Homo sapiens: one gene and its partners. The protein of the gene in region 3 interacts with the protein of the main gene of each other region in a pairwise test. Each region holds a gene or a part of one and is shown on either strand. Other genes may lie near its edges.

The links.
Region 1: the proteins of BRICD5 (region 3) and AQP6 interact in binary tests that used the Homo sapiens proteins (3 or more experiments, as listed by UniProt).
Region 2: the proteins of BRICD5 (region 3) and SCN3B interact in binary tests that used the Homo sapiens proteins (3 or more experiments, as listed by UniProt).

The regions. Positions count from the first base shown.
Region 1 is NC_000012.12:49,970,922-49,974,521, reverse strand, and holds the start of AQP6 (aquaporin-6), read right to left. Parts: upstream 1,576-3,600; 5' UTR 1,349-1,575; coding exon 947-1,348; intron 199-946; coding exon 40-198; intron 1-39. UniProt on the Homo sapiens protein: Aquaporins form homotetrameric transmembrane channels, with each monomer independently mediating water transport across the plasma membrane along its osmotic gradient.
Region 2 is NC_000011.10:123,640,972-123,644,788, forward strand, and holds part of SCN3B (sodium channel regulatory subunit beta-3 precursor), read right to left. Parts: intron 1,701-3,817; coding exon 1,475-1,700; intron 504-1,474; exon of another isoform or gene 1-503. UniProt on the Homo sapiens protein: Regulatory subunit of multiple voltage-gated sodium (Nav) channels directly mediating the depolarization of excitable membranes.
Region 3 is NC_000016.10:2,209,028-2,212,844, forward strand, and holds BRICD5 (BRICHOS domain-containing protein 5), read right to left. Parts: upstream 1,837-3,817; 5' UTR 1,807-1,836; coding exon 1,756-1,806; exon of another isoform or gene 1,667-1,755; coding exon of another isoform or gene 1,624-1,666; coding exon 1,495-1,623; intron 1,255-1,494; coding exon 1,099-1,254; coding exon of another isoform or gene 1,025-1,098; coding exon 923-1,024; intron 680-922; coding exon 526-679; coding exon of another isoform or gene 430-525; coding exon 335-429; 3' UTR 226-334; downstream 1-225.

The DNA of each region.
Region 1 (3,600 bases), on a different chromosome or scaffold from region 3:
CGGTGTGTGCATGTGCACGGTGTCCCCTCTGTTCCTTACCCCAATGAGGTGGCCCAGTGCCACAGAGATCCCAATCATGGTGGCCGGGGAGCCTGATGTCTGACGGCTGTCGGTGGAAGCGAAGACACAGAGCACCAGCTGCAGGGTCAGAAGCAGCTCCACTGCCACCGCCTGGCCAGTTGAGACACTGTTCCGGACCTGGACAGAGGGAGTTACTCTGGACCAGACGCGGGCTCTGCCCACGGACAGACAGAGAAACCCCTGCCACTGGGCCTGGTCTCCTCAGCTGGAGGGGGGTGACACCTCACTGCCGCCCAGCTTCAGGACTTCGGGAGGCCTGTGCAGAGGGGTCCATATCTGCTCTGGACCCTTGCTCCCTGCAGAAGTGAGTGGTGCTCCTCCCACCCCACCAGTGGGTTGGTTGGGGCCAGTGGTTCAGGAGGCTTGCTTGAGAGGAGACTGGCAGCAGGTGTGGAAGGAGGAGATTTGGGGGAAGAAGGTGGAACACAGATGGTTACGAAATGGAGAAGGGGCGAGTGAGGCAGGCCTCGAGGTGGAGGGAAGAACTTGGGAACAGTCGGAGAGCAGAGGACGTGGGTGGAGCCTGGGAGAAAAATGAAGTCCCCGTGGGGTCCCCTTCTCTACCCACAGGCCCCGCACTCCCTTGGCCGCATCTACCCTTAAACGCCTGGTCCTTCTATTCCTTCTCCTTTATGTGGCCTCTTCCTTCTCCACCTGTTCTTCGCGCCACTATCCCATTTCTATTCTGCCTAGACTGAGGTCAAAGTCTCAGTCCTCTGGGTCCTGGGGCCCAGCCCGGGAGGATGTGGAGCCTGCAGCTGACTTGTTTCCTCCTTTGCTCCCTCGCCTCCGTCCTGGCCTCCACCTTCACCACTTGTGCGCATTCCCGCCTCCTGGCCCTCCAGGTGCCCCTCCCTGCACCTACCACGTTGATCCCAAGGGTCTCTCGGATGTCTCCCGGCATGACCCCATAAAGCAGAGCAGCCCCCACCGTGGCCCCCACCAGCTGGGCAGCCACATAGGCCACAGCACGGGGCAGAGAGATGTGGGAGCCTACGAGGAAGGCCAGCGTCACGGCGGGGTTGGCGTGGGCCCCGCTGGCCTTCCAGGTGACCTGCACAGCCATGGCGGTGACCAGGTTGAAGGTGATGGCAATCTGTAGCACGGAGGGAAGTGCTGTGGGCCAGCGCATGACTGAGCCCACGCCAAAGAACACATACAGCCCCGTGGCCAGGAACTCTGCAAACAGCGCCCTGCTGATGGCTTTCCAAAGCCTGCACGCCAACATGCTGGCCCAGCCACGTCCCCCTGGCTCCACTGCATCCATGTCCTGGTGCCTTGGCCGTTCCTTGCCTTGCTCTGGGGCCTCTTCTCTGTTCCTCTGGTCTCTGATCTCCTGTCTCTTCTGGTGTCCTGTCTCTGGCTGACCCTGGCTTTTGCTCTCTGTGGAGGCTTCTCTGGCCCCCACCTGCAGCTCCTCCACCACGCTCCTGTCCCCAGGACTGTGCTGGTCAGACTGGCAGGGCGCAGGCGGATGGGCTTATGCATGTGTATGGGGGTGGAATGAGGGGTGTTGCTCATATGCCTGCTCCAGCCTGAGCTGACCTGATGGGGTGGGATGTGGGGGCTGTCTCTGGGCACTGAGCTGGAACCTCCTACGATGATTTCCAGGGCGGGTTGGGCCTGACTCGTGTTGTAGACAGTCCAAGGTCTAGCCTGAGGGTCGCAGGTGCAGGGCAGCGGGGCTCATGGGATTTCAGACTGTTCATGTTCCAATGTCAGCTTAGATACAGCAAGATCACTCAGATCCCCGGCCTGCTTCAGGGGGTCCTGTGCATTCCCAGGTCCTGTTCGTCTGGCCCCCTCCATATCTAGGCTTTGCTTCCAAATGGGCTGACACCACACCGTGCCCGTAAACCCAGAAAGTAAGTTCCCTCCTCCACTCCCACCTATACCCGCACTCACAGAATGCAGATGTGAATACAGTCGACTTTACCAAGGACGCTGTGGACACTGTGGCCTGTGGGGTTGCAGAGGGGCGGGTGGAGAAGGGGTTTATTCCACAGCGACTCAAACCGCGTCAGATCACACAAGGCCATGGGCACCTCTGCTGTCCACCAGGGGAAATTTCCACTGGCCCTTCACTCACTTCCTCCTGCCTCCCTGCCCTCCCCCGCGCTCCCCTCCCTTCTTGGCTCCTCCGTCTCTGCTCTCCTCCTCTCAGGGGCCAAACAGATTTCACTCCTTTCTCACACAAGGCAGCTTAACCATTTTTTGTGGCTGCACTGGCCCTATGGTCACCCATGCCCTAGGCTTTCCCTGGCCCTATGGTCACCCATGCCCTAGGCTTTCCCCTTTTAACCCTAGCAGATAGCAAGGTATCTTCTCAAACAAAAGTGTTCCTCCCTAAGAAGAGTCTGCCAAGCTATTGAAATAACAGTCTTCCCCTCTTCACCGTAGCTGGGTGTCCTGACCTCATCCCTGGCATATCTACCTGCCTACAGATGTCCCCTGGTTGTTCTCAGGCTCCTCAAACGCAATCTGTCTCCAGATGTGATCCTCCTGTCTCCTGGTACCCCCCCCAACCCCCATGTTCTCCTCTTGTTTTCTGCAGCTCAGCTGGTGGCATCTGGGAAGCATCCTTGACCCTTTTCTCCCTCCTTCCCCCATCCAGGAAAAGCATCAAGTCCTGCTGATTTTCAATCCTAAATATCTCCTGACTGTGCCCTCTTTTTGCCACCCCTGCCGCCCTGCAGCCTTTCACCAGTCTCTCTGTCTGCTCCCTTGCTCCGTTTCAATCAATTTTCCATACTGCAGCCCAAGTGCTAAAATGCAAATCTGATCATGCTGCTCCCCTGCTAAAATCCCTTCCAAGCCTCCCATCCCTCTGGAAGCTCTGTGCCTGCCTTCAGGGACCCTGCAGCTCTCCCTCACCTCTCCCCACTCTGTTACCCTCTGGTTTCACCAAATGCACACTCTTGCTGGCCTCTCCTTGGAAAAAGCTCTCTCCTCTTCTTGGAGATCCCTTGCACTCCCTTTGCTTGGGTAACTCCCATTCCAAAGGCTCAGCTTTGACGTCGCTTGCTCCTTTCCTGGGTGGGGACCCTTCTGCGTGCTCCCACCACACCTGGGCATTCTCCTACACTGCAGTCACCACAGGGTGTTGTCATGGTGTGAATGTGTCTCCCCAGTGAGGCAAGGCGGGGAGGCCTTTGGGGGGCGGGAACCAAGTTTTGTTCACCCCTGCATGTAGTGTCTTGCACAGAGATTGGCACAGTAACTGCCCAATAAATATTTGTTGAATGAATGAATAAAAACTTCTTGACTTCCCGGGGCAGATGACTATGTCTGCTGCATTTCAGCCTCATACTCATACCTTCCCCCAACTGGGACTGAGCCCTCTGATATCTTCAAGAGAAACATCTTAACTCTGGACTACAGGCTCTGTTCCTCCCCAGTCCCTGTCTGAGTCCCAGTAACATCCCTCACCCATTTCCTTCTGTTCTCCCTGCTGTCTCGACTTCACCATGTCCTCTCCAGGGAACTCCTGGGCATCTCACCCTGAGCAGGCTCTTGCCA
Region 2 (3,817 bases), on a different chromosome or scaffold from region 3:
CTCTGGTACCTGGCAGACGAACTAGCTCAGCCTTGCCACACTTCCCACCAGCTATGCACGAGGGTGTCTGGAGGCAAAAGCCCGAGAGAGCAGAGGTGGAGACGGCTGAGCACTGTGCTAAGGTCTGGCGGGCACCAACCAAAAGTTCCAGATGGTGACCAGGAGAGGGCGCCAGGGCCCCACCCCCCAGAGGAAAGGCGTGTAACAAACGGGGGATAAAGGAACTTCAGAACAGGGGAGTACCTCAGAGAGCCCCCCGCCAACCCCTTCATTTCACACCAGAGGAGCGGGGCTCCGAGCAGGGAAGTGACTCATCAGGTCTGGATTCAGGAGCCCTGAGAGTCCCTCTGCACTTTCAGAATTGACCTACCTTCCATTTTAGTCATATCGTCTGATCCGTTATGTCTCTTTCTCCTTTGTTCATTCACTCTGAGGACTGAATCTCCGCTTCATTATTTTTATCACAACGACATGATAAAAAATGAATAAACCTGTGGCCTGGAGGTTGGGATTCCTGGATCCTTTTTTCTAGGAAGAGCCCTGTCTTTAACTTGATCTTTTCCTTCATGCCCCACACTTTGGCCTGCTCACTAGCAGTGATAATGCTGGAGATAGACTGAGAAAGGCTGGAACTCCCCCCTCAGGATGCAGGACTCCGGTTGCAACAGAAACACCTGAGTTAGGCTGCTGAAAGGCCTTCCCACTCACGAACACGGAACTAGCTGTAGGAGTCCAAAGATTTTAAACAAGACTAGAGAGCTATCAACCTGTCCCCTTCTCCCAGCAGGGAATGAATTTATGTAATAAGAGATGCCACAGATGGGGAAGAGGTTGCACGTGTGATTACTGTGAAGAAAGACAAAAGAAAAAAAGATTGTCAAACTTTGGTTTAGAGAGAGGTTCTCAAGGTGTGGTCCCAGCAGCAGCACTGCCCGCCAGGCAGTGTGTCACGCAGTGCAAACTCTCAGGCTCCACCGACAAAAGCAGAAAGGCTGGCTTCCAAAAAGCCCTGCAGGAGATTTTGAGGTTTGCTAAAGTTTGAGAACCCCTGGCTTAGAGGCATGTATTGCTTACAGGTAGAAGGAGAGATGACTTCCGGGTAACCTCATGAGATTTCTCTGAGCCCACTGAGTCAGGGATTCAACATAGGCCAAAGAAGAAGGCCTAGCTGAATCAGTAGCTTTAGGCCTCATGGAGGCTAGCCTCTTTCTCTAAGGGACCAGGAAGAGCTCATTCTATCATCTCCAAGCCTTTCTGCTTTGAGGAAAGGCACAGAAAGACAAGCTGCTTAGGGAATTTACAGGAAGCTGGCCACCAGAAGAAGATGGGTCAATGGTGACATTTTTAGATGTCACCATTCCAAATACATGGGTTTTTGCACTCTTTAAGGGCCTCACTCGTGGAAAACTGCTGTCCTACCCTTCCCTGTCCACAGAGAGCAGGACGCCCTAGAGACCCTGTGCCTCAGCCTCACCCTCCTCGGTGACTCTTAGGGGGATCAGCCGCGTCGTCTTCACAAAGGGCCGATGCGCCTCAAACTCAAACTCCCGGGACACATTGCAGGTGTAGAGGCCAGAGTCGTTCAGAGTGACGTTGAGCACAGTGATGGACACGTCCTGCAGGTCCTTGCTGCCATTCCACTGCAGGCGCCCCTGAAAGGGGCTCTCCACCTCCTGGTGGCCATTCCGATACTCGTAAATCTGCAGATAGAGGAGCAGAAGAGGGTAGGGCCAGGAAAGGAGATGGCAGTGGGGGGAAGCCGAGTTAGGGACAGGGCAGAGAAAAGGAGCAGAATTGTGCATGGACAGGGAAGAGAGGGGACAATGCCACCGGGAGACCCAGAATGTGGGGGTGGGATGAAGAGGCACAGAGGAGGGTAGGGAAGGGAGCAAAGACAGGGAAGGACAGGCAGAGGCAGCAGGCATCAGGGCATGTGGACGTGGTGAGGACAGAGGCAGCCACGGGCGTGTAGGAAGAAGCTTGGCAGAAAAAAAGGGGTGGAAAGAGGGAGAACAAAGGCAGGCGGGAGAAGAGTATGGGAGCCCAGGAGACGGACATTGAGAGAAAGACAGGATTGTAAAAAGATAGAGAGAACAAGAGAGTAAGATGTGTCCCAGAGCCGCTGGCAAGAGAACAAGGTAGAGACAGCAAGACAGGCAGATTCATTAGTAATGAAGACATATGAAAGCCCTGGCTTTAAAACTGGACTCTCTGTGCTGGTACTCATCAGGGGCTGTAGGACAGTCTGGGCCAGGCCACAGGAAGGAGGCCCAGGATGCTGAAGCATGGCAGATGAGCAGAGAGCCATCACCAGAGAGGCACACGTCACATCTTTTGCTTTGGACTGAATTTTAACTAAAATATCATCTTTTAAATTTCTTTCCTCAACACTTCCACCCTCTGACATAACAGCCAAACTCATTTCTGACTCTAGCTTCTATGTGCCATTCTCTCTCTACAGCTGTGCTGGCTATTCTAGTCTCCACTAGCCACATGTAGCTACTTAAATTCAATTTCTTAGAAGTTAAATACAATGTAAAATTCAGTTCCTCAGTGGCACTGGCCACATTTCAATTATTCATAGCCACATGTGGCTGGTGGCCACTGTATCGCACAGCACAGATAGAGAAGGTTTCCACCATCACAAACATTTCTATGAGACAGCCTTGCTGTGGATTTCCATGGATGTTTTGCTGTTGCCGTTTTATTTTTCATTTTCTTCTTCTTCTGATCCACCTTTTCCTCACTTTGGGCAGGCCTGGAAGCAATGTGGGCAGCTATCACTGGTACATGACCAGGCCTGAAGGCCCTGGGGGCCTTTGCATCTGGCCAAGACATCCAGCCTCCTGCAGCTGGGGGCTAGCCTCAGTTGCAGCTTCATTGACGTGTCACTGTCACACCTGAGCCAGGCTCTGGGAAGTCTCCGCTGGTCCCAGTCTTAGTACCAGACGGTTGCAAATCTGCATCAGAATGGCACATAGAAGCTAGAGTTAGAAATGGGTTCGGCTTTAGGATAGTGAGAAAGAAGAGCAAGCTAAACCCAGTTTCGCCCTTCCATTGTCTCTGTTACAAATCTTTGTGGAGGAGAAACTTGCCCCCAGGAAGGCAAAGCAGTGCCGTAAAAAGGGCCTTGTATCTGCTGTTAGACCACCTGGCTCAAGTCAAAGCTGTCTTAGTTATTAACTTAACTTCTTTGAGCCTCAGTTTCCTCATTTCTGTGTCTATCTTTTCTCTAGCAAACATTTACCAGTGCTTACTATATTCCAGAAACTATTTTTAATGCATTAAAAATTATAGCTCATGAGTCCTGGTAACAGCCCTATAATTTGGCTATGCTTTATATCCCCACTTTAAAAATGAGGAAACCGAGGCACAGAAAGGATGACCAACATGTCCAAGGACACAGAGGTGATAATAAGTGTGAAGTCAAGAATCAAACCCAGGTGGCCTGGCTCCACAGTCAGTGAAGGAGTAAATAATGGTCATCTCCAAGGTGGTATTCAAAATATATGACAGCCGACCAGGCACGGTGGCTCACACCTGGAATCCCAGCACTTTGGGAGGCCGAGGTGGGTGGATCACCTGAGGTCAGGAGTTTGAGACCAGCCTGGCCAACATGGCAAAACTCTGTCTCTACTAAAAATACCAAAATTAGCTGGGCATGGTGGTGGTGCCTATAGTCCCAGCTACTGGGGAGGCTGAGGTGGGAGAATCGCTTGAATCTGGGAGGTGGAGGTTACAGTAAGCGAGATCACACCACTGCACTCCAGCTGGGTGACAGAGGGAGACCCCGTTGAGAGAGAGAGAGAGAGAGAGA
Region 3 (3,817 bases):
CTGGGACTCTCAGCCCCCAGTTGCTTATCCAGATGTGACAGAGCTCGACCCAAGCCAGGCTGCACACTCCTGGACTGGGCTAGCCTGCACTGCCTGGGAAAGTCGGCCGAGGGCCCAAAGCTGCTGAGGGGTCTGAGGCTGGTGCCCACCCCCAAGCTAGTGTGTTCTCTGCCCCTCCCTGCCCGCGTTTCAGGGCCTCGGTCCATAGAGAACACCACCACCATGGCCAGGTGGAAGGGTTTATTAGTCCCTGCCAGCAGCTGTCCTCCCTGGTGCAGGTGGCCTGGCCAGCCCACTGGATTGGGGACGGGCCAGGCTGGGCCAGGTCGGGGGCTCAGTCTGGGAGGTAATAAAAGCAGACCGACACGCAGATGTTGCTCGGGAAGCAGATGTCGATGCAGAGATAAATCAGCCGCTGTCTCCGGGGCCCTGTGGCGAGGGTGCCGTGAATCTCCAAGGGCTCCGCCCCCAGCTCCTCAAACCATCCCGAGGGCCTGGCCTTCCCCCACAGCGGTCCTGACTCACCCTCTGCTCGCCGGGCCCAGTAGATGGGGGTCCTCATGCACAGGCGCTGCACCAAAGCCCCCGCCTGGGCGGGGTCCACTTCGAGGCTCCCCTGCACTGCCAGCAGCTCCTGGGTGTGGTGGGTGTCCTGGCTGGGGACCCAAGCCTCTTGGACCTGTTGAGAAGGCTCTGGTGGGCGGTGGGACAGGGCTGCTCCCTGCTCCTGGCTTGGCAGGGCCGGGTACCCTCCAACCCCCAGTGATGTCCCCACCCTCAGCTCTTGTCAGCAGCCTGGGCTTAGGGCGGAGAGAGCTTCCTGTTCCCTGAAACCACAGCTCCAGCCTGTCCCGTACTGGGCTGCACACAGGACCCTTTGTCTAGCCCCTGGCCCGGGCCTGCGCCCAGCAGGACGGCTCACCTTGGAGGTATCCACCAGCAGCCGCAGGGTCTCCCGATCACTGTCCTCCATCAGGCGGAGGAAGCAGACCTGGTGCTCCTCAGGGCGGTAACAGATGCAGCCCTGGGGAGGCAGGGGGGTGAGGCGGGGCCCCCCAGACCGACACCTGCCAGGGTGACCCCTCCCTGCCCACTCACGCTCTGCCCGTCGAACAGCACCGCCCAGCTGTGGTTGCTCTGAGGTGGGGTCACTGTGATGGTCGCCGCGTTCCGGGCCACGTCCACCAGGATGGTTTGGTTGGGCCGGGGCATGTGGGGGCTCGGGAGGGTCATTCGCAGCGTCTGCAGCCTTGGCTGGCAGTGGGAGTTGGAGTTCAGCCGGGCAGCTGTGCAACCCCAGCACAGCCTCCAGCTCTGGGCTGCAGGACTCCTGACACCCCTGAGTGGGCCCTTCCACCCCTTGGTCCTCTGGCTGTCTGCTCCTAGGTGGTGTCACTGCCTGCTCCGCACCCTTGCTCTGCTGGAGGCTGGGATATGCCAGCTTCCCTTCTCCCTTTCCACTGTCCATGTCCCTGGTGCTGAGGAGGGGCTCACCTTGGGAGGGCCCTGAGCAGAGCCAAGAAGCCCTCCAGCCACAACCCCCACAGCGGCCAGCACCAGCAGCAGCAGCAGCAGGAGCAGGCTCACGGCTCTCCAGCCCCCGCAGGAGGGCTTGGTCTTCACCTGGGCGTGCATCAGGGTCAGAAGGGTCATGAGGGTTAGACATCAGGGAGCAAGTGGGCTGGGGAAGGGAGGGGCTGGGTGGCCTGGGGCACCCCCTGGGTCCTTGCTGCAGGAGTAACGGGAGGCACTCACCCCTGTAGGCCCAGGTTTGGGGCGCTCAGCACAGCAGCTTGCTGGTTCCATCCTGCAGCCCCTGCTCACAATGTGCCGATTGTCTGCGTCCCTTGTCTGCAGCCTTGGCCAGGGGAAACTCAGAACAGAACCCCTCCCCTCCTGACCCTGCGCCTCCCCCTCAGCTCTGGATCTGATATCCAGGTCAGAGCCAGGACAGCCCCTCCTCCCACCTGGGGGATGCCTGTCACCAGGCCCGGCTCCAGACACCTGGCCTGTGCAGACTGGAGCTCAGGGTCTGGGAGGCGTAGGGCTCGGCCGCGTGGAAATCCAGTCCGGCTGACCGACTGGAGGGCAGCCCAGGCCCGGCCAGGGTGACTCGCTAAGTGTGGTTGGGGTGGATTTCGTTTTCCTAAAGTGGCCTGAGTCTGTCAGGTTATCCTTGACTCCCAGAGTTGGGCACAGGGCCTGACACGCCACAAGCTGTCAATACGTGCCTGTTCAGTGAATGACAGGTGTGGGACTGTGCACCCCCAGCCACTTCCCAGCCCCCGCACACCCAAGACCGGGGGTTCCTGAAGCCTGGACCACAGACAGGCAGCCTGCTGGAGCCTGTGCCCCTGGGACAGTCAGGCCAGCCTCGGGGGCCCGCCTAGCCCAACTTTTTTTTTTTTGAGACGGAGTCTCGCTGTGTCCCCCAGGCTGGAGTGCAGTGGCGTGATCTCAGCTCACTGCAACCTCTGCCTCCCGGGTTCACACAATTCTCATGCCTCAGCCTCCCTAGTAGCTGGGATTACAGATACATGCCACCAAGTCCCGCTAATTTTTGTATTTTTAGTAGAGATGGGTTTTCACCATTTTGGCCAGGCTGGTCTTGAACTCCTGATCTCAAGTAATCCACCTGCCTCAGCCTTCCAAAGCGTTGGGATTACGGGTGTGAGCCACTGCGCCCGGGCCAGCATTACTTCTGAGCTCTGCTCCCTGCCCTGGGCGCTCTGACACGGCAGCCCACCAGCTTCACTCCAGGGCCCTTTGCTTCCCTGGCTTCCCTTTGTGCCTGGCTTTCCCTCATTCTTCAAAACATCTTCCTCTGAACCAGGCTGGGAGTGGGCAGTTGGCATTCCAGCTCTGGAGTTGGAACCCCAGTTACCCATCTACTTTGAGTCCTCCCACCCGTGGTGAGACGGCATCACCCGGGCCAATGCAAGGTGAGAGCAAGGACACCTGAGCCAGTGTGGGTTTGAGAGTTTAATCTGTGCTCTGGCGCCCACAGTGCTGCAGCCCCTCATGGGCCAGAGACAGGATGCACGGGGACTCCCAGCCCCTACCCGGCAAGAGAGGCATCACTGAGGCTGCATCTGCCATGCGCTCCTGGTGTGACTGCACCCTGTCAGGCCAGACCCGGCTTGAGCCAACTTAGCCAAGCCAGCGTCAGTGTCACCAGCCTCATGGGTGGAGCCACCCTCATGCTGCTCTGCAGCACCCTCTGAACCCGATATCCCAGGCCTGGGAGGTGCTGAAGGCTCAGGACGCCTCTTATTGCTCTGAAGTCTTTGTGACCAAGTGGAGTGCTGTGACTGTGGGGCCAAGAGAGAAGCTGCCAGGTACAGGGAAAGGCGCTGGTAGGGAGCCAGCCAGAAGGTGCAGCATCCCGGGATGGCCCTGCTGAGTCTGCTGTCAGGCCTGTGAAAGGTCAGCAGAGCCAAGGAGCAGGCAGGAGAGGCTGGAGCCCCGCCCAGAACCTTGGCGAGCTGGTGGCCCTGCCAAGTCCTGCTGGCCACTGAAGAGGGAATCCAGGGCAAGGCAGGTGACCTCCTGGGCCACCAGTCTCTAACCCCTACCCCAGCCTAGGGAAGGGGAGGACAGGAAGAGACTGGATGCTTTGTAAAGGACTTCCTGTTCTTGGGGACATAACTCTCGTCCCCTCCCAGAGCCCTGGATGACTGACAGGCATTCCTTGGCCAACACATGCTTGAGCCGCGCTGCTGGCTGCAGGGCACCTGGATGACAGGCATTCCTTGGCCAACACATGCTTCAGCCGCGCTGCCGGCTGCAGGGCACAGAGGCTCCTTCAGTGGAATTT